Homo sapiens: one gene and its partners. The protein of the gene in region 1 interacts with the protein of each later gene in a pairwise test. Each region holds a gene or a part of one and is shown in the gene's direction. Other genes may lie near its edges. The genes, in order: RIPK1, CDC42BPB, ANXA1, USP4, RNF216, TRIM38 and NUMBL.

Region 1 (3,500 bases):
ACCTGTCCGCTGCTCTGCAATCTACAGTTCAGAGACAAGCCCTGTCTTCATGATGCAGACATCATCTGATGTAGAGTATATGCATGATGGGATGACATTAAATATGGATTAATGAAAGGATATACACTATAAATGACCGTGAGAGCAGATAGAATATTAGTGGTTGCACTTTGATACCATTCAACAAAGTTTTATTTTAAATTAAATATAGAAATTATTGGCAACAACACTGGATAGGATTTAAAACAAAAATAAAAATTGTTTACCAAAGTCAAATGATTTGAAAACATTTTTAAAAGCTTATGTGCCTGTTAAGATGAAGGCCTTGCGCTAGTTGCTCATGAATCAATAGCTAATATGACGTAGGAGAGTAAAAGGAGGCAGATAGCTAAATAAGTGGTATGGTGTGATGGGGTTTTTTTTTTTTCTTTTGTAAGAGAACAAGGTCTCACTGTGTTGCCCAGGCTGGAGTGCAGTGGCACAATCATAGTGCACTGCAGGCTTGAACTCCTGGCCTTAAATGATCCTCTCACCTCAGCCTCCTGAGTAGCTGGGACTATGGGCATGAGCCACTGCACCCAGCTGTGTGGTGGTATTTTTTTTTTTAGAGGAGTCTCGCTCTGTCGCCCAGGCTGGAGTGCAATGGTGCAATCTCGGCTCACTGCAACCTCCACCTCCCTGGTTCAAGCAACTCTCCTGCCTCAGCCTCTTGAGTAGCTGGGATTACAGGCGCCTACCACCATGCCTGGCTATTTTTTTAATTTTTAGTAGAGACAAGTTTTCACCATGTTGGTCAGGCTGGTCTCGAACTCCTGACCTCGTGATCCGACTGCCTTGGCCTCCCGAAGTTCTGGGATTACAGGCATGAGCCACCGTTCCCAGCTGATGGTGTTTTGATAGACATACTCATTGCTGAGGGAGTACACATGAGAGGCACCCACTCAGCCTGGAATAGACAGAAAAGGCTTCCAATGTGAAGGACATGTAGACGTTTTGAAGCAGAGAATTAGAGAACAAGTGTTCTAGGCAGAGAGAATACCATGTAGAGACTGCCAAATTTGGGGAACTGTAAATTCCTGGGTTTGGCTAGAGCATAGATTGCACAGGGTATGGGGAGGGGTGGCGGGATATGGCTGCCTTTATGGCAAATACTCCCACTTTTCCACTTTCTTCTCCCACCCCACAATTGCCAAGCCAACAGACATCTCACAAAAATACCCTTGGGAAGGAGAAGAGGTGATCACTTATACGCATGGTATTATAGTTTGATCAGATTGCTCTCCACCCCAGAACTAGAGAAGATCAGCTGTTTGAAGTAAACATTTTGATTGGGAAATAAGTCTTTGGTCTCCCATCCAAGTACTAACCAGGCCCAACCCTGCTTAGCTTCTGAGATGAGAGAGAAATCATTGGGGACATGAGGCATTGTGCAAGATGAGGGAAAGTTCAGGTGCACCTGTTTGGACTCAGTCAGGGCATCAGGAGGACCTGAGAGAGAAGCAGAAAGAGAGGAGAGAGGGGGACCAACTTTGCTTACTCAGAAGTTTTTCCTAAGTCCAAAGGTATACCAAGGAAGAAGAGAAAACATCTTTTCTGCTACTTTCTGTATGGTGGTGATCAAGCTATTAACAGTGTAGCTCTGCTACGTTATGTCATAAATATGGTTTGAGGGGGAATCTCACTTCTATCATTAAAATTTTTTTCCTGTTAACCAACGACCAAAATACATATACATTTTTAGGAAACATCTTGTTTGTATACTGATTTTTTATTGTTAAGCAAAACTGTAATTTAACCACTATAATAGAAACTGGAATTGTTTCTGTTAGTATTGATGCTCACATAACAAGAATACAATTATAAGAACCAGTGACCTGAGACTCTACAGAAGCCTGAAGTATCTGCTACCAGGTCATCAAATAGATATTAATTCACTTAAGCGTAGTTTTAACATCATGTTTATCTCAGATTTTTCTATGATTGTAATCAGTGTGAACATGTTCCCTTGTATTCTTTTTTCTCTTAATGTTATTTTACACGCGACATTTGCATGGCATTGTTCATGTCCTTAATGTAAACTTAGTATGATGTCGTGTGAGTATCCCACAGAAACTGCTTGCTCGTATATTTATTCATCCATTCATTCAACAAGCATTCCAGGTACAATCCTAGGTTCTAAAGATACAGTCCTAAATAATATATATTTTTGTTCTCAAGGAGCTTAATTTTATAGTATTTTATGCATTACCAAATTATTGTGGGATTTTTGTTTTTACACTAACAAAATACAACACGAATACCCTCTGCCCCCCCCCGAATGAAATCTTTCTTGTTTCCCAGTGACAGCAGTACTGTGGTGCACCTGCTGGAAGGAAACCTGGTAACCTTCTCCTCAGGCTCAGATCCCACCACCCTTTCATGAAACAGTTGCTTTGGCCTATTTGATAACCTTTCCATTTCATAGACTTAATATCACTTGTTTTAGATGAGTACTCCGCTTTCTGTAAAAGGAAGGATAATTTTGGAAATCATTGAAGGAATGTGCTACTTACATGGAAAAGGCGTGATACACAAGGACCTGAAGCCTGAAAATATCCTTGTTGATAATGACTTCCACATTAAGGTAAACCATCATCGGTAGGCTTCCAGAAAGTTGGGTGATTTTAGTTTTAATTCTCCAATGTAAATCCATTCTCGTACATTGGAGAAGCTAAAGGAAGACCTAGCTCAGCTTATAACTGTTGATGATGGTGCCGAAAGGCTCTACCGGTGATTGAGAGGAAGGCTGCAGGCTTGATGGGATCAGGAGATAACTGTCAGGATAACTCATATCTTTTGGGGGAGGAGTGGAGTTGAATGGGGTAGATGAGAAGACCTCTTTCCTAGACTGTGTTTTTTCCTCTGTTAGAAACATTTAGAAACATTCAAGGGTTGCCCTTTTCATCCTGGAATGGGCCATTGGTGTCATAATGTTCTCCAGGAAATCTGTGTCACCAAGACTCTCCTCCTCTGGAAATGCAGGGGAATGTGAAGGTGTGTGCGGAAAATCCTTAGAGTTCAGATATGGCCTAAGAGTGAGATCAGCGGCCGGGTGCAGTGGCCCACGCCTGTTATCTCAGCACTTTGGGAGGCTGAGGTGGGCGGATCACCTGAGGTCGGGAGTTCGAGACCAGCCTGACCAACATGGAGAAACCCCATCTCTACTGAAAATACAAAATCAGCCGGGCGTGGTGGTGCATGCCTGTAATTCCAGCTACTCGGGAGGCTGGGGCAGGAGAATCGCCTGAACCGGGGAGGTGGAGGTTGTGGTGAGCCGAGATTGTGCCATCGCACTCCAGCCTGGGCAACAAGAGCGAAACTCTGCCTTAAAAAAAAAAAAAAAAAAAAAAAAAAAAAAAAAAAAAAAAAAAAATCAGCAGTGCATCAAAAACCTCTACTTTGAAATTTTGTTTTATATTTGTATTCGATTGTTTACTTCTGTCTGTATTTTAAAAATCAGT
Region 2 (3,500 bases), on another chromosome or scaffold:
AGTGGTACGTGCGCGGCCCCATTAGCGGCCGTGAATCCGCTCCCTGCTCAGTCCATGGGGTCTGCCCCGCCTCTTCTGCCTGATCCTGTGCTCCACGCCAGGCCGTGCCTCTCAGGCTGGGGTGCAGGTCTCACTGCTGTTCCCCAGAACTTCTCATGTCTGGGGCAGTGGTTCTGTTGGAATAGAGGTGGAGATACGCCCCCACCAACCCACTGAAGGACTTGGGGCAAACCGTTCACACCCCTTGCGTTCTCAGAGACAGGGGAGGCAGAGCCCTCCCAAAGCGGCTGCAGAAGCAGCAGGGAGACTTGGAGCGAGCTGGGACCTGGCCCTCCGCTCCTAAGGTGTGAAGTTGTAATTAAAAAAAGAGTTTTTATTTTTAATTTTTGTGGGTGCGTAGTAGGTATATATATTTATGGAGTAATAGAATTTTTTCATTCTTGAGTCTTGGAAGTTTGGTGTCTTTTTAAACTGCAGTCATGTGCAATGTAACGACGCATCCATCAATGAGATCCCGTGTATACAACGGGTACACTGCGGGCACTCTAGCTGACGTGACACTGTGTCACTGTGTGCCGAGGAAGGCGGGAACGTCCCCTTCTTGTTTGGCTTCTCCCTGATAGCCATGCTTCGTGAGATAGAACATCTGTTCCCTCCTCCAGGGTCAGTGACGAGAAAGATGCCCGGGGTTACCTTCAAGCTCTTGCTTCCAAGATGACCGAAGAGCTCGAGGCTTTGAGGAGTTCTAGTCTGGGGTCAAGAACACTGGTAGGTTTTGTGTAATGCCTGCATTTCTATTACTGAATAATTCGCTAATGGTTTTAAGTATAAATGTGACATATAAGTACTATTTAGGGAATTACAGTGATGCAAGAGACTTCTGTGTAACCAGTTCCCCAATTTAAGGAACGCCAACATTTGCCAGCTCTCAGATCATCATGGCTTCTCTCGACAGCATTCATTCGTTTAGCAAATAATTACTGAGCACTGAGCTCCGTGGTGTCAAGTTAAGACTGGATTCTGCCCTCAGAGAGCTTGCTTTTATTAATTTCATTGGTTCATTTAGTGATGTGTGTATTTTATTTTTTTCCTCCCGCGACAGTCTCACTCTGTTGCCCAGGCTAGAGTGCAGTGGCGTGATCTCGGCTTACTGCAACCTCCGCCTCCCGGCTTCAAGTGATTCTCCTGCCTCAGCCCCCCCGAGTAGCTGGGATTACAGGCGTGTGCCGCTACACCTGGCTCATTTTTGTATTTTAGTAGAGACGGGTTTCCACCATGTTGGCCAGGCTGGTCTCAAACCCCTGACCTCAGGTGATCTGCCCGCTTCGGCCTCCCAAAGTGCTGGGATTACAGGCATGAGCCCCCACACCTGGCCTTCCTCTGTCCATTTTCTTCTCTTTACTGTTATAGATGGAAAATGAAGCATTCTCAATTGTGTTCAATGAAAGGTTTTCAGTTTGTTTTAAAAAAGAAAAAACAGCAAGATGGCATCTCTGGACTTCTTTGATACCTCTCGAAAGTTGATGTCATACATTGGGCAACTCAGTAAGAAAACAGGAGGATGATGTTAGTGAACTGGCTTATTCCACTGTTGCTTCATCCTAGGTCACTCTGTCATTCTTCCCTTATTATTTTAGTCTTTTTTTTTTTTTTTTTTTTTTAATCACAGGTAGGAATGAGTAATGACATAATTCCCAGGATGGTGAAATAGCAAAACGTTTCAAGTTATGAGAAAAAGATAACCGAACCCTATAATGTACCTTAGGTTTGTAAAAGGGTCCAGGGTCCAGTGGACCCATATAGAAATTGCATTACAGAGGCCAGGCGCAGCGGCTCATGCCTGTAATCCCAGCACTTTGGGAGGCCAAGGGGGGTGGATCACGAGAGCAGGAGTTGGAGACTAGCCTGGCCAACGTGGTGAAACCCTGTCTCTACTAAAAATACAAAAATTAGCCAGGCATGGTGGTGCGGCACCTGTAATCCCAGCTACTGGCTACTGGAGAGGCTGAGACAGGAAAATCGCTTGAACCCAAGAGGCGGAGGTCGCGGTAAGCTGAGATCACGCCATTGCACTCCAGCCTAGGCAACAAGAGCGAAACTACATCTCAAACAAAAAAAAAAAGAAAAGAAAAGAAAAGAAATTGCACTACAGAATCACTTTTATTCTTCTAAAAGATAAAGTAAATTATTTAGTTATTTTTTAGAAGATTTCTGAGGAAGAGTAAAAAAAGTCATAAAATATCAAAACTAAAACTCCTGAGGCACCTCCATAATTTAGAGTTAATATCTAAATGAGACCGTAATGGCTTAAGGTTAGACAAAGATAACTTATTTGTTAACATTAGTTTAACAAGCGGATAACTGAAAATGCATTTTTAACGCCATGACCGTGTCTCAAGGACCCGCTGTGGAAGGTGCGCCGCAGCCAGAAGCTGGACATGTCCGCGCGGCTGGAGCTGCAGTCGGCCCTGGAGGCGGAGATCCGGGCCAAGCAGCTTGTCCAGGAGGAGCTCAGGAAGGTCAAGGACGCCAACCTCACCTTGGAAAGGTACTTGGTGCCAGGGTCTGACTCCAGGTAGGAGCAGTGGCTGTGTGGCCTCGAGCCCGCCCTGAGCCTCACGGGCTCCGATGCTCCTCGCCTGGAAAATCGGGGCCACGGCGTTTGCTGGAGCCTTAGGAGGCAGCACGTCGGGTTCACCTGCAGGAGCCCCGAATAGCAGGCCGTTCTGGCACTGAGGTGGCCGCGAGGGTGCAGGGCCTTGCCTGCCGCGGGGGGGTGTGGTGCGGTGCGAGCCGTGTTTTGACGGCAGCGGGTGCTTGTGCCCCCACGCTGGGTAGCGAGACTCACACCGCTGTCTGACAGGAGCCCCTCTCACTGCTTAGTCACCTCCGTGCCGCTCCATTCACTAATTCAAGATTGTTCCTTTCAAGCTAACGTGAATATTTTAAAACAGAGGTTGAAGATGGCATTCTCACTTGAAATTTTTCCCTAACTCCAAGCAGTAACGAGAACGCCATTTTCACACAGCAGTGATTCAGTCAGTATTTGCTGAGAGTCTCCTCTTTGCAGATCTGGTTTTACGAGGATACGATAATGAACGTCAGTTTCATAAAAACCAGGCCAGCTCTGCTGTGCCATGAGGCAGGCGAGGACCTGGAAGGGACAGTGTCTCTAACAGAATTACCAAGTCCCAAATCCTGTTAGTTTGGGGCTAAAAAATTAATGGTAATAGGTTTCAGTTAAATTGACTTTCTTTATACTGGGAATTGCTGTAAGACTGTTCTGTTGTTAAATCCTGTGACCCTCCCACAGCCCAACAGGGTAGGCAGTCTTGTTACTCCCACTTACACACACTCCGCAGGTGATTTGCCCACTGTCACCCCACTGATGAGTGGACCAGCCCCCACAAACTGCATCCCTCCCGGCCAGGTGTTCCCCGTGGCAGCCTGACTTCCTCTGTCCCCTGCACGAAGTTGCTGGAATTGCAAGGCTACCCGTG
Region 3 (3,500 bases), on another chromosome or scaffold:
GTCTTACATTTTGTTATGCTCCTAAGTGTAATTGATCCTGGAAAGTAAGCGCAAGGCTACTCTCTAATGCTAACTCTTATGTATGTAAGAGGTGAGGAAGGAGAGGTTGTGTGTGGTGCATTTGTTTTGTAAAAGCATCTAACTGTTTTCTTTCCAGACACTTTTTCAAAAATGGCAATGGTATCAGAATTCCTCAAGCAGGCCTGGTTTATTGAAAATGAAGAGCAGGAATATGTTGTAAGTAGAGTGATAATAAAATTATGATTACAATATTGAAATAAAAACGAATATAAGTAAATGGCCATTAATTTATTTCTCTCTCATTCTTAGCAAACTGTGAAGTCATCCAAAGGTGGTCCCGGATCAGCGGTGAGCCCCTATCCTACCTTCAATCCATCCTCGGATGTCGCTGCCTTGCATAAGGCCATAATGGTTAAAGGTAACGTGTTTCCTCAAAACAGTTCCCTCCTGGACATTTCAGAATGGCTATTTGAATGACTGTCAAAAAACAGACATGTGCAATGGAAAGAATCTGTTTCATTTTGAAGATAAAAACATTTCTTTGCCAAACGAAGATGTAATTATTTACTTAACACTGAGGAAATTGTGTTCACATCAGTGGAATCTCTATTGTTACAGCAGATATTACTGGCTCATTTCTAGCAGAAATTCCATGCTGAAATTAAAAGCTCTGTTCACATATAGAGTTGCAACTAGTATCAAACACTGCAACACTGAGGGCCAGGAAAAGTTAATTGTCTCTTCCTTTCTCACTCGAATGAAATGTCATTCTCCCAAGTGCTTCCTTGATATGTAGTATAGCATCGATTTTTTAGGCTGATATATAATTTATATTTCTTAATTTGTTAAGAAGTTCTTTTGGAGCATCTCAGTAATGAATTATTTTATGTCAATTGATGATGAAGAAAATTGGTGTTAAAGGCTGTTGGCCCTTTATTTCCAGGTGTGGATGAAGCAACCATCATTGACATTCTAACTAAGCGAAACAATGCACAGCGTCAACAGATCAAAGCAGCATATCTCCAGGAAACAGGAAAGGTAAGTTAGAGTGGTAAATTTAGATATTTAATTTCAGCATAGTTATACTTAACCATGGATTCGGAAGCACAGTTACCTAGTTCTTTAAGGTTCTAACCACTGTTTTCTCATTACATCTATGATTGGGATTGCAGTGTTTATCCACTTTGTTGCAATTTAATCAATTTTATCAAATTTCCTATTTTTATACATTAGTCATCTTGGTGTATATTGTTTGCAGATGTGGTGCTCTGGGGACAAATTTTTAATTTGAACGTAAACATCGAGATTGCTGCTGTCAATAAAGAATATGGTCTGATTGAAATGTACTAATATTTAAACTGAACTGTTTAATGCCTAAATTTTATATATAATTCTACTTTAAAAATAAGCCTTATGTCTTTTATACCAAATATGAGTAGTTTTCTAAAGCAATGAAATTAGAAAACTATATAATTTCAGTATCTGATTATACTGCTTGTTATTTGAGAAGTACAAACCTCAAAGATTGGAAACATGAATATATTATTTTAAAAGTAATTTTACTTCTGTTTTCTGTTAGCACACAGTCCTCTGTGTTTTGATCTTTGTGATTTCTCCCCTGTGTATAAGATTACTAACCCTATGCTTTAAGAAGTTATTGATGAATTCAGTAAATTTTATTTTAATCCCTCTAGATCTGGAAGGGTAAGATAATGTTTCAAAATATTTGGTACACTTTGTATGTGAAGGGAAGAAGCTCTAAAAGATGGTTGGGTTTAGGGATGAGTTGTACGATGACCTAAAGTCAGGTAATATCACATTTTTTAACCTAGCATGTTACTTATTGGAAGTCCTGATTCTAATCTTTTTTTTTGTAGCCCCTGGATGAAACACTGAAGAAAGCCCTTACAGGTCACCTTGAGGAGGTTGTTTTAGCTCTGCTAAAAACTCCAGCGCAATTTGATGCTGATGAACTTCGTGCTGCCATGAAGGTAAATCGCCCAATTTGAGCAAACTCCTTTCCTCAAGAGGATGTATTGGGCAAGTCACTTATGCTTATGTTATTTTCAAAATCTAGTATAGTACCTGTCAATCAGTGGGAGTTTGAAGAATAAATAAATTAATACCTCAATGAAGGAATTAATATATAAATGAAAACAGAAATGTTGGCACTAACACCTTCCATGTCATGTCACTATATGAGTCATATATTTGCATTTTTATTTTTACCCAAAATATTGATGATAAACTTGTTTTGTTTTAGGGCAATGTAATAGAGCTTATTGTAATTATTAAATGTTGTGGGTGAAATTTACTAAATGACAGAGTCAAACAAATTTTGGAACACCAAAAACTCATTGATCCTCTTGCATGAAGATTTTTTTCTACATTTATCCTTTTCTTCTCTTCAAATTTAGGGCCTTGGAACTGATGAAGATACTCTAATTGAGATTTTGGCATCAAGAACTAACAAAGAAATCAGAGACATTAACAGGGTCTACAGAGAGGGTAAGTTGTAATGTCCAACAGTCCAAACGCCTTATTTGAAAAGGAAATCTAATATACTTTCTTAAAATTGACTGTCTATGGTAATTATGGCAGCTTTGGAATCTCCACATATCAAAATGTTTCTTTATTGTTTGGCACATGTCTATTAAATGCTGTTACCAGGCAACGCTTGAGTTGCTAGGTTGCTGACAAGGGAGATGGTGTCCCAATCCGCATCAAGCTTGCGTTTTAATAGAAAATGTTCCTCTAGGATAAATGGCCACATACGATTATAATGGAAACCTCAATTCAGAGCATTGAATTTTTAAAAATTTCTGAAAAACACTTTTCTATTATTCTGGAATGTATTTTATAAAAATGTCCCAAGGTCATTTTTTTTGAAAAGAATATATAATAACAAAAAAATCTCCTAACAAAATGTTTTTCATTTGTCCTTGAAAAAGTAAAGAATTAGGTGCTTATAATTCTCTGTTGGAAACCTTAACTTTATCGTTATGAACATAAGAGACTCACTTTATCTCTAGTTAAATTCACAGAATAAAAGACTAGTCTTAGCTTATTTTATCTCTCCAGTGAAGCATCTCATTTAAATGATGTGCTCAACACTGAAAAGAGGGTAATTGCAAGTCTCTTACCATTTTCCTACTCTCATTTCCCTGAGCTGCTGGCTTTTTGGCTTTCCCAATGCAATATATGGCATATAGAAGATCTTTCTGCTTGATTCTCATACCAAGCATGGAGAATACAATAGCTTTTGCATATCATTTTCAGAGGAATTTAATAAAAGAATAAAAATAAGGAAGCTTTTAAACCTCATTTTCTGCAATTCTTATTTAATTACCAATGTTTATGTTAGATCCATGTGTCAGTGGTAATAATGATGATTATTTTTGTTTGATAAAACATAGTTTATAAAAATAAGTGTTTATATATTTTTCATATGGCCAAGATATAGGCCAGTGATAGTTTAT
Region 4 (3,500 bases), on another chromosome or scaffold:
CAACGTCTTCTAAATGTTCAAGTGAAAAGGAGAATTGCATGTCTCTCACTTCAAATCAAAGCTAGAAATGATTTGAGTTTGGTTAAGGAAGCCGAAATAGGTTGTAAGCTAGGCCTCTTGTGCCATATAGCTAGCCAAGTTGTGAATGTAAATGTAAACCTCCTGGACTTAAGTGATCCTTCCACCTCAGCCTCCTGAGTAGCTAGGACTACAGGTGCTTGCCAGCATTCCTGGCTCATTTTTGTATGTGTTTATTTTTTCTTTTTGTAGAGATGGAGTTTTGTCATGTTGCCTGGGAGATGGAGGAACCCAGGAAATGGTGGTTTCAGTGAGCTGAGATTGCGCCACTGCACTCCACTCCAGCTTGGGCGACAGAAGTGAGACTCCATCTCAAAAAAAAAAAAAAAAAGTGCTACTCTAGTGAACACATGAATTATAAGAGGCTGAAACAGCCTTATTATTGCTGATATGGAGAAAGTTTATTCATTTATTTTTTTTTTTGAGACAAGGTGCCATCTTGTCTCAAAAAAAAAAAAGGTAGCTACTGCTACCTCGTGCAGTAGCACAATCACACCTCACTACAACCTTGACCTTCCCAGGCTCAGGTGATCCTCCCATCTCAGCCTCCTGAGTAACTGGAACTACAGGCCCCACCACACTCGACTAATTATTGTATTTTTTGCAGAGATTTTTTGTGGGTTTTGTCATGTTGTTCAGGTTGATCTTGAATTCCTGGGCTCAAGCAATCCTCCCGCCTTGACGTCCCAGAGTGCTGGGATTACAGGTGTGAGTCACTGTGCCCAGGCTAAACAACAGGTTTTATTTTATTTTATTTTTATTTATTATTATTATTTTTTTGAGACAGAGTCTCACCATGGGGTTTCACCATGTTGGCCAGGCTGGTCTCAAACTCCTGACCTTAAGTGATCCGCCTGCCTCGGCCTCTCAAAGTGCTGGGATTACAAGCATGAGCTACTGTGCCTGGCCTAAACAACAGATTTTAAATGTAGACAAAACACCCTTCTATTGGGAAGATGCCATCTACCTCTTTGCTGCTAGAGGGGAAAAGTCAGTGCCTGGGTTCAGAGCCTTTTTTTTTTTTGAGACAGGGTCTTGCCCTGTCACCCAGGCTGTAGTGTGTGATCACAGCTCACTGCAGCCTTAACCTCCTGGGCTCAAGTGATCCTCCCACCTCAGCCTCCTGAGTAGCTAGGACTACAGTTGCTTGCCACCATGCCTGGCTGATTTTTATATGTTTGTTTGTTTGTTTGTTTTGTAAGACAGAGTCTCGCTCTGTCGTCTAGGCTGAAGTGCAATGGCACAATCTTGGCTCACTGCAACCTCCACCTCCCAGTTTCAAGTGATTCTCCTGCCTCAGCCTCCCAAGTAGCTGGGATTACAGGTACCTGCCACCACACCCAGCTAATTTTTTTTTGTATTTTTAGTAAAGACGGGATTTCAGCACGTTGGCCAGCCTGGTCTCGAACTCCTGACCTCAGGTGGTCCACCCGCCTTGACCTCCCAAAGTGCTGGAATTACAGGTGTGAGCCACTGTGCCCAGCTTTGTATTTTTTTTTTTTTTTTGTAGAGATGGGATTTTGCCGTGTTGCCCGGGCTGGTCTCCAACTCCTGGGCTCAAGTGATCTGTCTGCCTTGACTTCTCAAAGTGCTGGGATTATAGGCATGAGCCACTCTGTCCGGCCAGATTCAGAGCCTTGAAGGACAGGCTGACTCTCTTCTTAAGGGATACTGCAGATGGTGACTTTAGTTTGAAGCTAGTGCTCATTTATCATTCCAAAAATCCCAAGGCCCTCAAGAATTATGCTAAATCTGCTCTGCCTGTGCCCTACACATGCAACAACAAAGCCTGCATGATAGCATATTTATTTACAGCATGGTATACCGAATATTTTTGTTTTTATTTTATTTTTCTGGGACAGAATCTCGCTGTGTCGCCCAGGCTGGAATGCAGTGGTGCAATCTCGGCTTACTGCAACCTCTGCTTCCCGGGTTCAAGTTATTCTCATGGCTCAGCCTCCCAAGTAGCTGAGATTACAGACATGCACCACCAGTTCTGGCTAATTTTTGTACTTTTAGTAGAGATGGGGTTTTGCTATTTTGGCCAGGCTGGTCTCAAACTCCTGGCCTCAAGTGATCCACCCGCCTTGACCTCCCTAAGTGCTGGGATTACAGGCATGAGCCACCACAACAAGTTTACCGATTTTTTTTTTTTTGAGTCGGAGTTTTGCTCTTTTGCCCAGGCTGGAGTGCAATGGTGCGATCTTGGCTCACCACAACCTCTGCCTCCCAGGTTCAAGCGATTCTCCTGCCTCAGCCTCCTGAGTAGCTGGGATTATAGGCGTGCGCCACCACGCCCAGCTAATTTTGTTTTTTTAGTAGAGACGGGGTTTCTCCTTGTTGGTCAGGCTGGTCTCGAACTCTCGACCTCAGGTAACTGCCCACCACGGCCTCCCCAAGTGCTGGGAGTACAGGTGTGAGCCACCACGCCCGGCCTCCCAATATTTTTTTTTTTTTTGAGACGGAGTCTTGCTCTGTCACCCAGACTGGAGTGCAGTGGCGCGATCTCGGCTCACTGCAAGCTCCGCCTCCCGGGTTCACACGATTCTCCTGCCTCAGCCTCCTGAGTAGCTGGGATCACAGGCGCCTGGTGCCTGCCACCACACCCGGCTACTTTTTTTGTATTTTTAGTAGAGACGGGGTTTCACCATGTTGGCCAGGATGGTCTCAATCTCCTGATCTCGTGATCCACCCATCTCGGCCTCTCAAAGTGCTGGGATTACAGGTGGGAGCCACCGCGCCCGGCCTCCGGCCTCCAGCCTCCAGCCTCCCAATATTTTTAGCTCAGGGTTGAGACCTACTGCTCAGAAAAAGCACTGAGCTAATCTTATCAAAATGTTACTGCTGCCAGGTGCAGTGGCTTACGCCTGTTATCCCAGCACTTTGGGAGGCCAAGGTGGGCGGATCACGAGGTCAGGAGATTGAGACCATCCTGGCTAACATGGTGAAACCCTGTCTCTATTAAAAATACAAAAACAAAATTAACCGGGTGTGGTGGCGGGTGCCTGTAGTCCCAGCTCCTCGGGAGGCTGAGGCGGGAGAATAGCATGAACCCGAGAGGTGGAGCTTGCAGTGAGCCGAGATGGCGCCACTGCACTCCAGCCTGGGGGACACAGCGAGACTGTCTCAAAAAAAAAAAAGTTACTGCTCCATTGCAATGTACCTAGTTACCCAAGAGCTCTGATGGAGATGCATGAGGAGATTAATGTTGTTTCATGCCTACTAAAAACATCCGTTCTGCAGCCTGTGAGTCAAGAAGTAATTTCAACTTTTTTTGTTTGTTTGTTTGTTTGTTTGTTTGTTTTGAGACAGAGTCTCACTCTGTTGCCCAGGCTGGAGTGCAGTGGCTCAGTCTTGGCTCCCTGCAACCTCTCCCTCCCAGGTTCAAGCAATTCTCCTGCCTCCTCCTACCAGGTTCAAGT
Region 5 (3,500 bases), on another chromosome or scaffold:
GCTGCTTTAGTTATAGCTTCAATAGTCCCTTAAAATAAAGCGCAGACCTCGATAGACCCATTCACACTCCTTATGACAAGAACAAAATTCAACTTTTGAAAGTTTTTTGGGTAACATCTCTCATACTCCTTATCCTTGCTGTTTATAATCACATTAGCATCTGAGTACAGATGTTCTAGTTCCCTTTGCACCATGGGATTGAATATGATAACTTTATATAAAGAATTACTCTAAAGAATACCAGAAAAAAAACACGAAAACCTCGCTGTTTTAGGTATGGATTAATACTGTGTTAGTATCTTGAGCTAGATTTATATAGCACGAAACAGCATATCATTGTTTTATGGCCCCTAAAATGGGTTGCTTTACCTCAGAATTTGTGTGGGGGGTGGCAGAGAGATGAGGATGGGAGACAAGGCTCCCCCTCTCCTTAAGTGCAGGACATTTCATGTGTGTTTCTTGACTGCCTGCAGGATGGCCAGCTGATTGAGTGTCGCTGCTGCTATGGGGAATTTCCATTCGAGGAGCTGACGCAGTGCGCAGATGCTCACTTGTTCTGCAAAGAGTGTCTCATCAGATATGCCCAAGAGGCAGTCTTTGGATCTGGAAAGGTAAGAACTGTGTAATATGTCCCATGTATATAGGACACATTCCTGGAGTCTAAGGAGACCATGTTGATAGATAAGTGTAAGTGCCTCTTTGAGGGTGAGGTGGAGTTCTGCTGGTATGCTTATGTGTACATTACCTGATGTATGTGATTATGTGGGTTCTCTGAGCACAGCAGATTTCTTTTCAGGGCACAGTAGAATTCTTCCACACTCCCACGCCTAGCCGCAGAGGAGCACCTCCTTCGTTCATCATCTTATTTGTATTCAGAGGGAAGGTTACCTCAGAAAGAGAGAACCTTGCAGCCTATTGGATTAAATATATATTAAAATAACATAACTTACTTTACACAAGATCATATTTCTCTCTCCAAAGTGAGTTTCTCTGGACACCAGCATAACAAACACAGTATGGGAATTTTACATTGTTTTACACCACCGAGTTTGTGGTATTTTGTTCCAGCAGCAATAGAAAACTAACACAGTGATTAAGAAGATGACTTTTTGCCCGGGTGGCTCACGCCTGTAATCCCAGCACTTTGGGAGGCCGAGGTAGGCGGATCACCTGAGGTCAGGAGTTCAAGACCAGCCTGACCAACATGGAGAAACCCCATCTCTACTAAAAATACAAGATTAGCCAGACCTGGTGGCGCATGCCTATAATCTCAGCTACTGGGGAGGCTGAGGCAGGAGAATTGGTTGAATCTGGGAGGCAGAGGTTGTGGTGAGTTGAGATCGTGCCATTGCACTCCAGCCTGGGCAACAAGAGTGAAACTCCATCTCTAAAAAAGAAAAATAGGCCAGGCGCTGTGGCTTATGCCTGTAATCCCAGCACTTTGGGAGGCTAAGTTGGGTGGATCACAAGATTAGGAGTTCGAGACTAGCCTGGCCAACATGGTGAAACCCCATCTCTGCTAAAAATACAAAAATTAGCCAGGTGTGGTGGTGGGTGCCTGTAATCCAGCTACTCGGGAGGCTTAGTGAGCTGAGATCGCACCACTGCACTCCAGCCTTGGTGACAGGGCGAGACTCTGTCTCAGAAAAATAAATAAATAAAGTTTATGTTTTTTCAAAGAGCGTGACCTTTGGAGTCAAGCAGAATGCATTGGGCCATGCCCCCATCAGCCATACTAGCCCTGTGATCTTGAGCAATTTAAATTCCTTAAGCCACTGTTTCTTCCTCTGTAAAATGGAAATAATCATAGCATTGTTTTGAAAGCTAAATGAGGTGATGAGTTTAATGAACTTATTGTTTGACACATGGTAAATGCCTCATAAATTTTAGCTAGTTATTTTTAAAATGTCGTCTTTTTCCATTTGTTTTCTTTGGTGTTTGTCTTTCATGTGGGAAGCATTCCTCATGTCTGACACTTTTTGTTCATGTTAAAGAGCTGTTTGAAAGCTGTGTGAGTAGTGGGGCTTATAGACCAGTGAGTTTGACTCTAGGTGCATAGGAGCCAGTTAGCTTTTATATTATGAACCTGAATGGCTCTGAAGTCTCTTACCTGGGGTGATTCAGTCTGCCTCCTGCCTGGTGGGTGTGAGCCCATTTTCCAACATTCTGAAACTGAGGGGGAGGAAAGGTCTGGAGAGTTCTCTGTTCATTATGCAGACTCCATTTCAGACTCTGACTTCAGGCCACCCCTCAGCTCTGCTCTCCTCTATGAGTGGTTTCCAGTCCAGAGCCGTGTGGTCCAGCTGTTCAGGAGATCTTCCTCATTTCTCTCAGAGTCAGCCAATTCCTTCTGAAGCGGGTAGGAACTAGAGGCTCCACCCATGTCCCTGTTTTCAGTTTATTACTTTGAGTCCCTGCCCCTCCCCACCACTCAGCTCTGCTTTCCAGAGGTTCTCCAGCTTTCTAATATCTGTAGAGGGGAACAACTTCTCCCCAGCATCTCCTTTTCAGACCCTAAGCTATGGGCTTCTGTGTGTGGTCTGCTAAGCCATTTGCCCTTCCGCCACTTTCAGTCTTTGTGGATTGTGATTTGGGCTAATAGAGGTCCTTTAGTGATATCAAAGATGTACTGGATTTTTGTTTCATGGTTTCCATGATTTAAGTGTGATTTCTCAGAGATGAACAGGCAGAGAGATCCTTGCTATGTTGTCTCAGGATCTATGTTTTTAACCACTGACGCTTTTTATTTTTCTATAAATGGTATTGATTTTTTTTTCTTTGCCTTTTCGCCTTTTTCTAGTTGGAGCTCAGCTGCATGGAAGGCAGCTGCACGTGTTCGTTCCCAACCAGTGAGCTGGAGAAGGTGCTCCCCCAGACCATCCTGTATAAGTACTATGAGCGAAAAGCCGAGGAGGAGGTTGCGGCAGCCTACGCCGACGAGCTTGTCAGGTTCGTTCTCAGGCAGAGCGTGCCATCTGCCAACTCTTCCCCATTGTGAAAACTACCTGGGCACTTGCATCAGATGATGAAAATTGTGTTTATCTTCCAGGTTTTTTGACATTTCTTGCTGAGAAATAAGATTATCAATAATTTTACTTATTTATTTTTATTTTTTACGCCTCAGAACCATTGAGTAACCAGTAATTCTATTAATGGAAAAATCTGCCCCTCAAACTTCTTTTTTTTTTTTTGAGGTGGATTCTCGCTCTGTCGCCCAGGCTGGAGTACAGTGGTGCAATCTTGGCTCACTACAACCTCCGCCTCCTGAGTTCAAGCAATTCTCATGCCTCAGCCTCCTGAGTAGCCTGGATTACAGGCGTGCACCACCACATTCCAGCTTATTTTTAGTAGAGACGAGGTTTTGCCATGTTGGCCAGGCTGGTCTCCAACTCCTGACCTCAAATGATCCACCCACCTCAGCCTCCCAAAGTGCTGGGACTACAGGCGTGAGCCACCGCGCCCAGACTGTAGCTCAAACTTCTGTCTACATATCTTGGCAC
Region 6 (3,500 bases), about 23 Mb from region 1:
TTTAATTTTTCTAAGATAAGCATTTAAAGCCTACAAATTTTCCTTAAAATTCTGCTTTAGCTTCATTGTATATTTTTATAAATAACTTTTTATTATTGTTCCATTCTATACATCTTCTAATGACTTATTAGTAGTTTACATTTCCTAATATTTAGAATCTTTTTAGTCATCTTTTTATTATTGGTTTATAATCTTATATTGAGGCTAGAGAAAATGATCTGTGTAATACAGATTTATTGAAACTTGTTCAGACTGTTTTCTGCCTAGTATTTACTCAGTTAGTGCATGTTCCATCTATACCTGAGAAAACTGCATATTCTCTGCTTACTATTATTAAACAATTGCTGAGCTTTATGTATTGACTATGAGATTGCGCTTCTTAGATTGTTCAGACCTTCCGTATCTTCCCTTATTTCTTTCTTTTGGTCTGCCTGATCTATCAATTATGGAAAGAAGAATGTTAAAACATCCCATGATGATTGTAGATTTGTCCATTTCTCCTATAATTCTACAATTTTTGCTTTGTATATTAACACAATTCTAAACATGAATTCACTAATAATGTAGTACATTTATGTTTAAAATTGTGTTATCTTTTTTAGGTGACTCCTTTCATTCTTTCTTTTTTTTTTTTTTTGAGACAGAATCTCTCTCTGTCACCCAGGCTGTAGTGTAGTGGCGAAATCTCAGCTCACTGCAACCTCTGCCTCCCCGGTTCAAGTGATTCTTGTGCTTCAGCCTCCCAAGTAGCTGGGATTACAGGCATGTGCCACAATGCCCAGCTAATTGTTGTATTTTTGGTAGAGCCAGGGTTTTGCCATGTTGGGCAGGCTGGTCTTGAACTCCTGGCTTCAAGTGATCCGCCTGCCTTGGCCTCCCAAAGTGCTGGGATTACAGGCATGAGCCACCACACCTGGCCCTTCTTCCATTCTTAATAATGCTCTGACTTAATATCTTTTGATATAATACTATAACAGTATATGACTATATTATCTATCTTTTAGCTTCCAATCTTTCTATATGTTTTTGTTGATGTGTCACACCAATAGATAGGTGGAATTTTAAAAATCCAATTGATATTTTTTCTCTTAAGTGGTATTACCACCCCGTAAACATTTTAATTTCTCAACATGGGTTTTCCTGGGTCATTCAGGTAATATGAATTGAAACCCCAAACTTCTGTGAGTCAGGCTGATAAAAGCTAACTGAATAGAGTTTGAAAAAGGAGGGTATTTACAAAGGTGAGGAGTTGGGAAATCCACAAGGAACAGGAAGCACCCAGAACTAGGAACAGTTAGAGAGCCATCACCTCCTCTGGGCCTCAAGTGGCAGGTGTAGGGAGCTGTAACTATACTAGAGTGTGCCCAGAGGCAGAGGAATGCAGACCCTCCAAATCATAGCGTGGGACTGGGGTACTGAATACTCCCAAGGCTGCTTCTTTGTGCCCTATGGTCTCCTCTGGTGCTTCCCATTGGCTGAACCAAGCCAGAGGGCGGAAAGCCTGGTTAATCTGTCCATGTCAGCCTTCCTGGGCACAGAGCAAGACAGGGAAAAGTGAGGGATTATTTGGAAGAACAAACAGAGAGCATCCAGCACAGGAAGTGTTTCTGAATACTTGAATTCCTTAATTGTCACAGACCAACTGATCAACATTTAACTCAGTAGCACAGTGGTTTCTTAACTCTCTTGTTAGAACATCCTATTACCATTTTTTATTTTTAAAACTGCATACTGTTCAGTATCTCACTTTAGGTTATCAGATCTTTTTTCTGTCTTGTTTGATTCTAGTCTGATATTTTTCATGTATATTGGTCCTCAGTGTATTATTATCTCATACTAATGCTTATGGAACATTATCTGAGGGGAAAGAGAAGAGCTTACAATTAAAAGTCATGGGACTAGGCATGTGTCATGAGACCTGGGTCTTCCAATAACAAGCTAAGACATTAGCTGAGTCATTTTCCCTCTCTGATTCTCAATGTTGGTGGTTATTCAGTAGAGAAGGGAAAAGGTATCTTTCTGCTCAACTGTCTCATGATTCCTGGAAGTCCTGCATGGGAGAAGAACTTTGGACAGGATGGTAACCATATTAACAGGTTAGTTCTGTACCTTGGCATCCTTGAATAATTAAGACGAAGATGATGTTGATGATATCATTATTACTACATGTTGTTAGAAGAGCTGAAGCAGGACTGGCTTGTCTGTCATAATGTAAAAGAGTCTTGGAAGATGTCCGGGGTCCAGGGTCCAAAACCCCTCGTGGCCTTTGGAACACCAAGCTCTGTGCCAAATGGTGGAAGGCTGCCCTGCCGCACCACAAATCTAAGCCTAGGGCATAAAACCCCTTGTGGCTTGGATGGAACCCAGGGCTCAGGGCATAAAACCCCTCATAGCCTCTGGAAAGTGCACAGACTTGTTGGTTCCTTGCTTTTCACTCATAAACGTGTCCTCTACTATCTCAAGCAGCAGAGTATATTCTACATGTGTCAAAGAAAATGCTAAACTGTCACAGCTACGCTTAATGCACCACTACCTTTCTACCCCCATGTCCTCATGCCCTCACCTGTTTACCCTCACGTCCTCACCACCTGCTTCTTTGTTTGATCACCAATAAATAGTGTGGGCTCCCAGAGCTTAGGGCCTTTGCAGCCTCCAATCTAGTGCTGGCACCCTGGACCCACTTTATGCACTCTTAACTTGTCTTTTCTCATTCCTTTGACCCCGCCGGACTTTGTAGCCCCCACGGCCTGGTGTTGGGCCTGATCACCCCAACAACTACCACTTATTAGGTGGTTACCATGTACCAGGAATTTTACCAAGCATTAAGCAAACATAAGCTTATTCAATCCTACCCACCATTCTCTGCAACAAATACGGTAATTTCCACTTTATAGTTAACAAACTGAGGCTCAGAAAGTTAAATGATTTGCCTAAGCTCACCCAGTTTATAAGAAACAATAGTTGGGTTTGAACACAGGCTGGTTTTATTGAAAATAACTTGTGGCTGGGCATGGTGGCTCACACCTGTGTAATCCAGCACTTTGGGAGGCCGAGGTGGGTGGAACACTTCAGGTCAGGAGTTTGAGACCAGCCTGGCCAACATGGCGAAACCCCATCTCTACAGAAAATTTAAAAAAATTAGCCACTTGTGGTGGTGCGCACCTGTAGTCGCAGTTACTCCGGAGGCTGAGGCAGGAGAATTGCCTGAATCCAGGAGGTGGAGGTTGCAGTGAGTTGAGATAGTGCCAGTGCACTCCAGCCTGGGTGACAGCAACACTCCATCTCAAAATAAAATAAAATAAAATAACCTGTGTTCTTCACAGCAACAAAATTATTTTTGTTTGTTTTGTTTTGTTTTGCAGTTAGTGTGACTCTGGATCCAGATACAGCTCATCACGAACTAATTCTCTCTGAGGATCGGAGACAAGTGACTCGTGGATACACCCAGGAGAATCAGGACACATCTTCCAGGAGATTTACTGCCTTCCCCTGTGTCTTGG
Region 7 (3,500 bases), on another chromosome or scaffold:
TGGGTGTGGCCACGCATGTGCGGCTCTAGTGGGTTGTCTGGGCCCCGTTCTTTGTATGTGGCTGAGAATGTGGAAGTGACCAAATTTCAGTGGGTGGTGTGACCAGGTGTCTGCGGTGGGAACTGAGTGGGCCAGGACATGCTGCATGTATGTGGACAAATGTCTGTAGTAGAGACTGTGTGTGTCCGAACATGAATATGCGGCCAGATGTTTACAGTGGCAGCTTTCTGGGTTTGGGACTGTTTCTGTGTATCTGCGATCTGAGGTGTGTAGCTGTGATTGCGTCTATGTGTAACCAAGTGTGTAAAGCTGTGGCCAGATGCTAGGGACACCTGTAGATATGAGTTGGCTGCGTATGTGTGTAGCCCTGCACATGCATCTGGAGGGCAAGGCCACTCTCACAGCATCCCCTTGGGCAGTGAGGCTCTCCTGAGGCCAGCACATCCCCAACATATGCCCCCCAAACATACCTACTCCTTCCTGGGCCCTTGGAACCAGGTGGCTGATCTCCCTGGTAACAGTTGCTAGGACAACTAGGACTCTCATCAGGGAGCCCAAGATGGAGGGGGCTGGCCGAAGTCCAAAGTCGGGGTGAAGTATCAGACTGAGCCCCAACCCAGACAAACTTCTCACCTTCTCCTCCCCTACTCGGGCAGGGCGGACCCCGGAGGCCTGAGCGGCACCTGCCCCCAGCCCCCTGTGGGGCCCCGGGGCCCCCAGAAACCTGCAGGACGGAGCCAGGTGAGCGACCAGCCTGGGACAGGGCAGGGCTGAATGGGTATGTGGTCTTGCCTAACACGACCAGAGGAGCTGTCCCTGCGGTCACACAGGCTTAATCACACTCATGAGTGGACACCCTCAGGCATCTTCCTCAGCGACTGTCAGAGCCCCACTCATGCACAGACCCACACCCTGACACCCTTACAGCCTCAAGTGCAGAGTCACAAACACTCACATCTGTAGATATACGGTTAGAGACACACACACACACACAGATCTCTTTCAGATCACACACACTTGCTAATGCAGTGACACACTTGAACACATGCTGAAGTAGATGTTCATCACACTAATGTACACACATATATACACACACACACATTCCTAGACAACACCCAGATTCACAGGTGACCACAGACGCTCGCTGGATACAGACTCTGAGATACACACTCTCAAGAGACACACTCTTGGCCGGGCGTGGTGGCTCAATGCCTATAATCCCAGCACTTTGGGAGGCTGAGGCGGGAGGATCACCTGAGGTCAGGAGGTCAGGAGTTCGAGACCAGCCTGACCAACATGGAGAAACTCTGTCTGTACTAAAAATACAAAATTAGCCAGGGGTGGTGGCACATGCCTGTAATCCCAGCTACTTGGGAGGCTGAGGCAGGAGAATCGCTTGAACCTGGGAGGCAGAGGTTGCTGTGAGCTGAGATCATGCCATTGCACTCCAGCCTTCATTCGCAACAAGAGCAAAATTTCGTCTCAAAAAAAAAAAAAAGAGACACACTCTTGCACAGTCTGACAACACACACAGACCCACATTTCTACAGACGACAGCCACACTTTCACAGACAGCACCCGCGGGCCCAGGCTCTCACAGGGAGCTACGGTTGTGTACAAACATGCACACAGTCTCACAAAGAACACCCAGCACTCTCTCAGGCAACAGTCACACCCTTACAAATAACCCTCATGAAAACACTCTCAAAGACAACCTCATGTTCCCACACACCCTAACGGATGCACCACTGCACACAGATACACCCTCTGTGCAATACCCACACACCCACACTCTAAGGCAACAGCCACAGTCACACAGGCTCACCGCCAACAGCTGCACTCTTGGACACAGACAGTCTTGTAGATCCCTCAGATGCACTCTCCGAGGCAATGTCATCACAGACAATAGCCACACCTTCACACAGAGACATAGCTACATGGATAACAGCCATGGACACACCCTTTGAAAGACGACAGCCTCATCTCAAACACAGACACACCCTCACAGGCAACAGGCACTGAGCCACAAGTTCTCATAGACAACAACGGCACTCTCGGATATAGACAGCAGACACACACTCACAACCACTCTCAGACATCGATGCCCTTCAGCAACAACCTTCAGGGCCTCAGACTCACAGACAACAACCACACTTTTGGATGCATCCCTCACGGACAGCATTCACAGATGCACACTATCCTACACCATTCTCAGACATGCGTTCTTCCAGACAGCCTTCAGAAACACACTCACAGACATTACTTGCCTGCTCAGATATAGAGCCCCTCATAGACAGCGTTCCAGAACATACCATTGCACACTTGCTTACACACACACACACACACACATCCCCCTCTGCTGTTGGTGCTCCCAGTCCTGGGACTGTCAGGATGGCTGATCAGTGAAGACTGTCCTAGTGGCTGGCCACCTCCACACCCACTCCACACACCCACAGCCCTGCCTCTGACAGTCATCAGTGCAAGGCCCCAGAAGCCTTGCCTGGGGACTAGACACAGTTGTCACAGAATGGCTGTGTCTCAGAGTTCCAGAGACAAGCCACCATCCCCCATACCCCATGCACCTGACTCCTGCACCCCTGACCCATGCAATTCCCAACTCCTCTGCTGCCCTCTGATCACCCCACTGCCTGACTCTCATACCCCTAAAACCCCTGACCGTGCGGCCCCTGACTTCTATGCCCTCTAGCCCCCATGCCCTCCTACGTCTGATTTCCCACCCTTTGTGTCCTCACGGCCCTGGGAATGAGGAAGCATCCACCACATGGACAAGAAGCCCTCCAATGCCCTGAAGCCTGTGCCCCATACCCCCCACCCCAGACCTCCAGCCCCTTAGCCCCATGGTTCTGAATCCCCAGTGCCCAACTTTCGCACTCCCCTGGCTTCTGTTGGCTCCTTTCCTCACTGTCCCCTGACTTGAGCTGCTGATCCCATGTGCGCTGCCAACTGACCCTGTAACCCCGCTTCCAGTTATCTTGTTATCTGACCCCATGCTCCCTGAGCACTGGTCCCTCCCCGTTGAGCTCCATACCTTCTGACCCCCACCCTTGACCCACATCACTGTCCTGTGTCACCAGACGGGGCGGGCACCATGAACAAGTTACGGCAGAGCCTGCGGCGGAGGAAGCCAGCCTACGTGCCCGAGGCGTCGCGCCCGCACCAGTGGCAGGCAGACGAGGACGCGGTGCGGAAGGGCACGTGCAGCTTCCCGGTCAGGGTGAGTGGGCGCGGCAGGGTGCGGCGGGGCGAGGGGGACGGGGGCCGCTGTGCTGTGCTGTGCGGGTGCGCGGCCTGGCTGGGACACCAGCCCAAGTCGTTTGAAGTTGGTGTTAAAAAGCGTGAGGCCGGCAGTCCTGGCTATCACGGTGAAACCCCGGCTCTACTAGAAATACAACAAATTAGCCTCGCGTGGTGGCGGGCGCCTGTAGTCCCAGCTACTGGGGAGGCTGAGACAGGAGAATCGCTTGAACCCGGGAGGCGGA

The links.
Region 2: the proteins of RIPK1 (region 1) and CDC42BPB interact in a two-hybrid assay, tested with the Homo sapiens proteins (one large-scale study listed by BioGRID and IntAct).
Region 3: the proteins of RIPK1 (region 1) and ANXA1 interact in binary tests that used the Homo sapiens proteins (3 or more experiments, as listed by UniProt).
Region 4: the proteins of RIPK1 (region 1) and USP4 interact in binary tests that used the Homo sapiens proteins (3 or more experiments, as listed by UniProt).
Region 5: the proteins of RIPK1 (region 1) and RNF216 interact in a two-hybrid assay, tested with the Homo sapiens proteins (one study listed by BioGRID).
Region 6: the proteins of RIPK1 (region 1) and TRIM38 interact in a two-hybrid assay, tested with the Homo sapiens proteins (one study listed by IntAct).
Region 7: the proteins of RIPK1 (region 1) and NUMBL interact in a two-hybrid assay, tested with the Homo sapiens proteins (one large-scale study listed by BioGRID and IntAct).

Annotation. Positions count from the first base shown.
Region 1 is NC_000006.12:3,078,494-3,081,993, forward strand, and holds part of RIPK1 (receptor-interacting serine/threonine-protein kinase 1), read left to right. Parts: intron 1-2,485; coding exon 2,486-2,623; intron 2,624-3,441; exon of another isoform or gene 3,442-3,500. UniProt on the Homo sapiens protein: Serine-threonine kinase which is a key regulator of TNF-mediated apoptosis, necroptosis and inflammatory pathways.
Region 2 is NC_000014.9:102,963,550-102,967,049, reverse strand, and holds part of CDC42BPB (serine/threonine-protein kinase MRCK beta), read left to right. Parts: coding exon 1-4; intron 5-662; coding exon 663-768; intron 769-2,399; coding exon 2,400-2,548; intron 2,549-3,500. UniProt on the Homo sapiens protein: Serine/threonine-protein kinase which is an important downstream effector of CDC42 and plays a role in the regulation of cytoskeleton reorganization and cell migration. Regulates actin cytoskeletal reorganization via phosphorylation of PPP1R12C and MYL9/MLC2.
Region 3 is NC_000009.12:73,158,365-73,161,864, forward strand, and holds part of ANXA1 (annexin A1), read left to right. Parts: intron 1-157; coding exon of another isoform or gene 158-171; coding exon 172-237; intron 238-330; coding exon 331-439; intron 440-964; coding exon 965-1,059; intron 1,060-1,898; coding exon 1,899-2,012; intron 2,013-2,438; coding exon 2,439-2,529; intron 2,530-3,500. UniProt on the Homo sapiens protein: Plays important roles in the innate immune response as effector of glucocorticoid-mediated responses and regulator of the inflammatory process. Has anti-inflammatory activity.
Region 4 is NC_000003.12:49,330,054-49,333,553, reverse strand, and holds part of USP4 (ubiquitin carboxyl-terminal hydrolase 4), read left to right. Parts: intron 1-3,500.
Region 5 is NC_000007.14:5,712,164-5,715,663, reverse strand, and holds part of RNF216 (E3 ubiquitin-protein ligase RNF216), read left to right. Parts: intron 1-473; coding exon 474-611; intron 612-2,800; coding exon 2,801-2,949; intron 2,950-3,500.
Region 6 is NC_000006.12:25,979,802-25,983,301, forward strand, and holds part of TRIM38 (E3 ubiquitin-protein ligase TRIM38), read left to right. Parts: intron 1-3,362; coding exon 3,363-3,500. UniProt on the Homo sapiens protein: E3 ubiquitin-protein and E3 SUMO-protein ligase that acts as a regulator of innate immunity. Acts as a negative regulator of type I interferon IFN-beta production by catalyzing 'Lys-48'-linked polyubiquitination of AZI2/NAP1, leading to its degradation.
Region 7 is NC_000019.10:40,684,152-40,687,651, reverse strand, and holds part of NUMBL (numb-like protein), read left to right. Parts: intron 1-656; coding exon 657-741; intron 742-3,095; coding exon 3,096-3,235; intron 3,236-3,500. UniProt on the Homo sapiens protein: Plays a role in the process of neurogenesis. Required throughout embryonic neurogenesis to maintain neural progenitor cells, also called radial glial cells (RGCs), by allowing their daughter cells to choose progenitor over neuronal cell fate.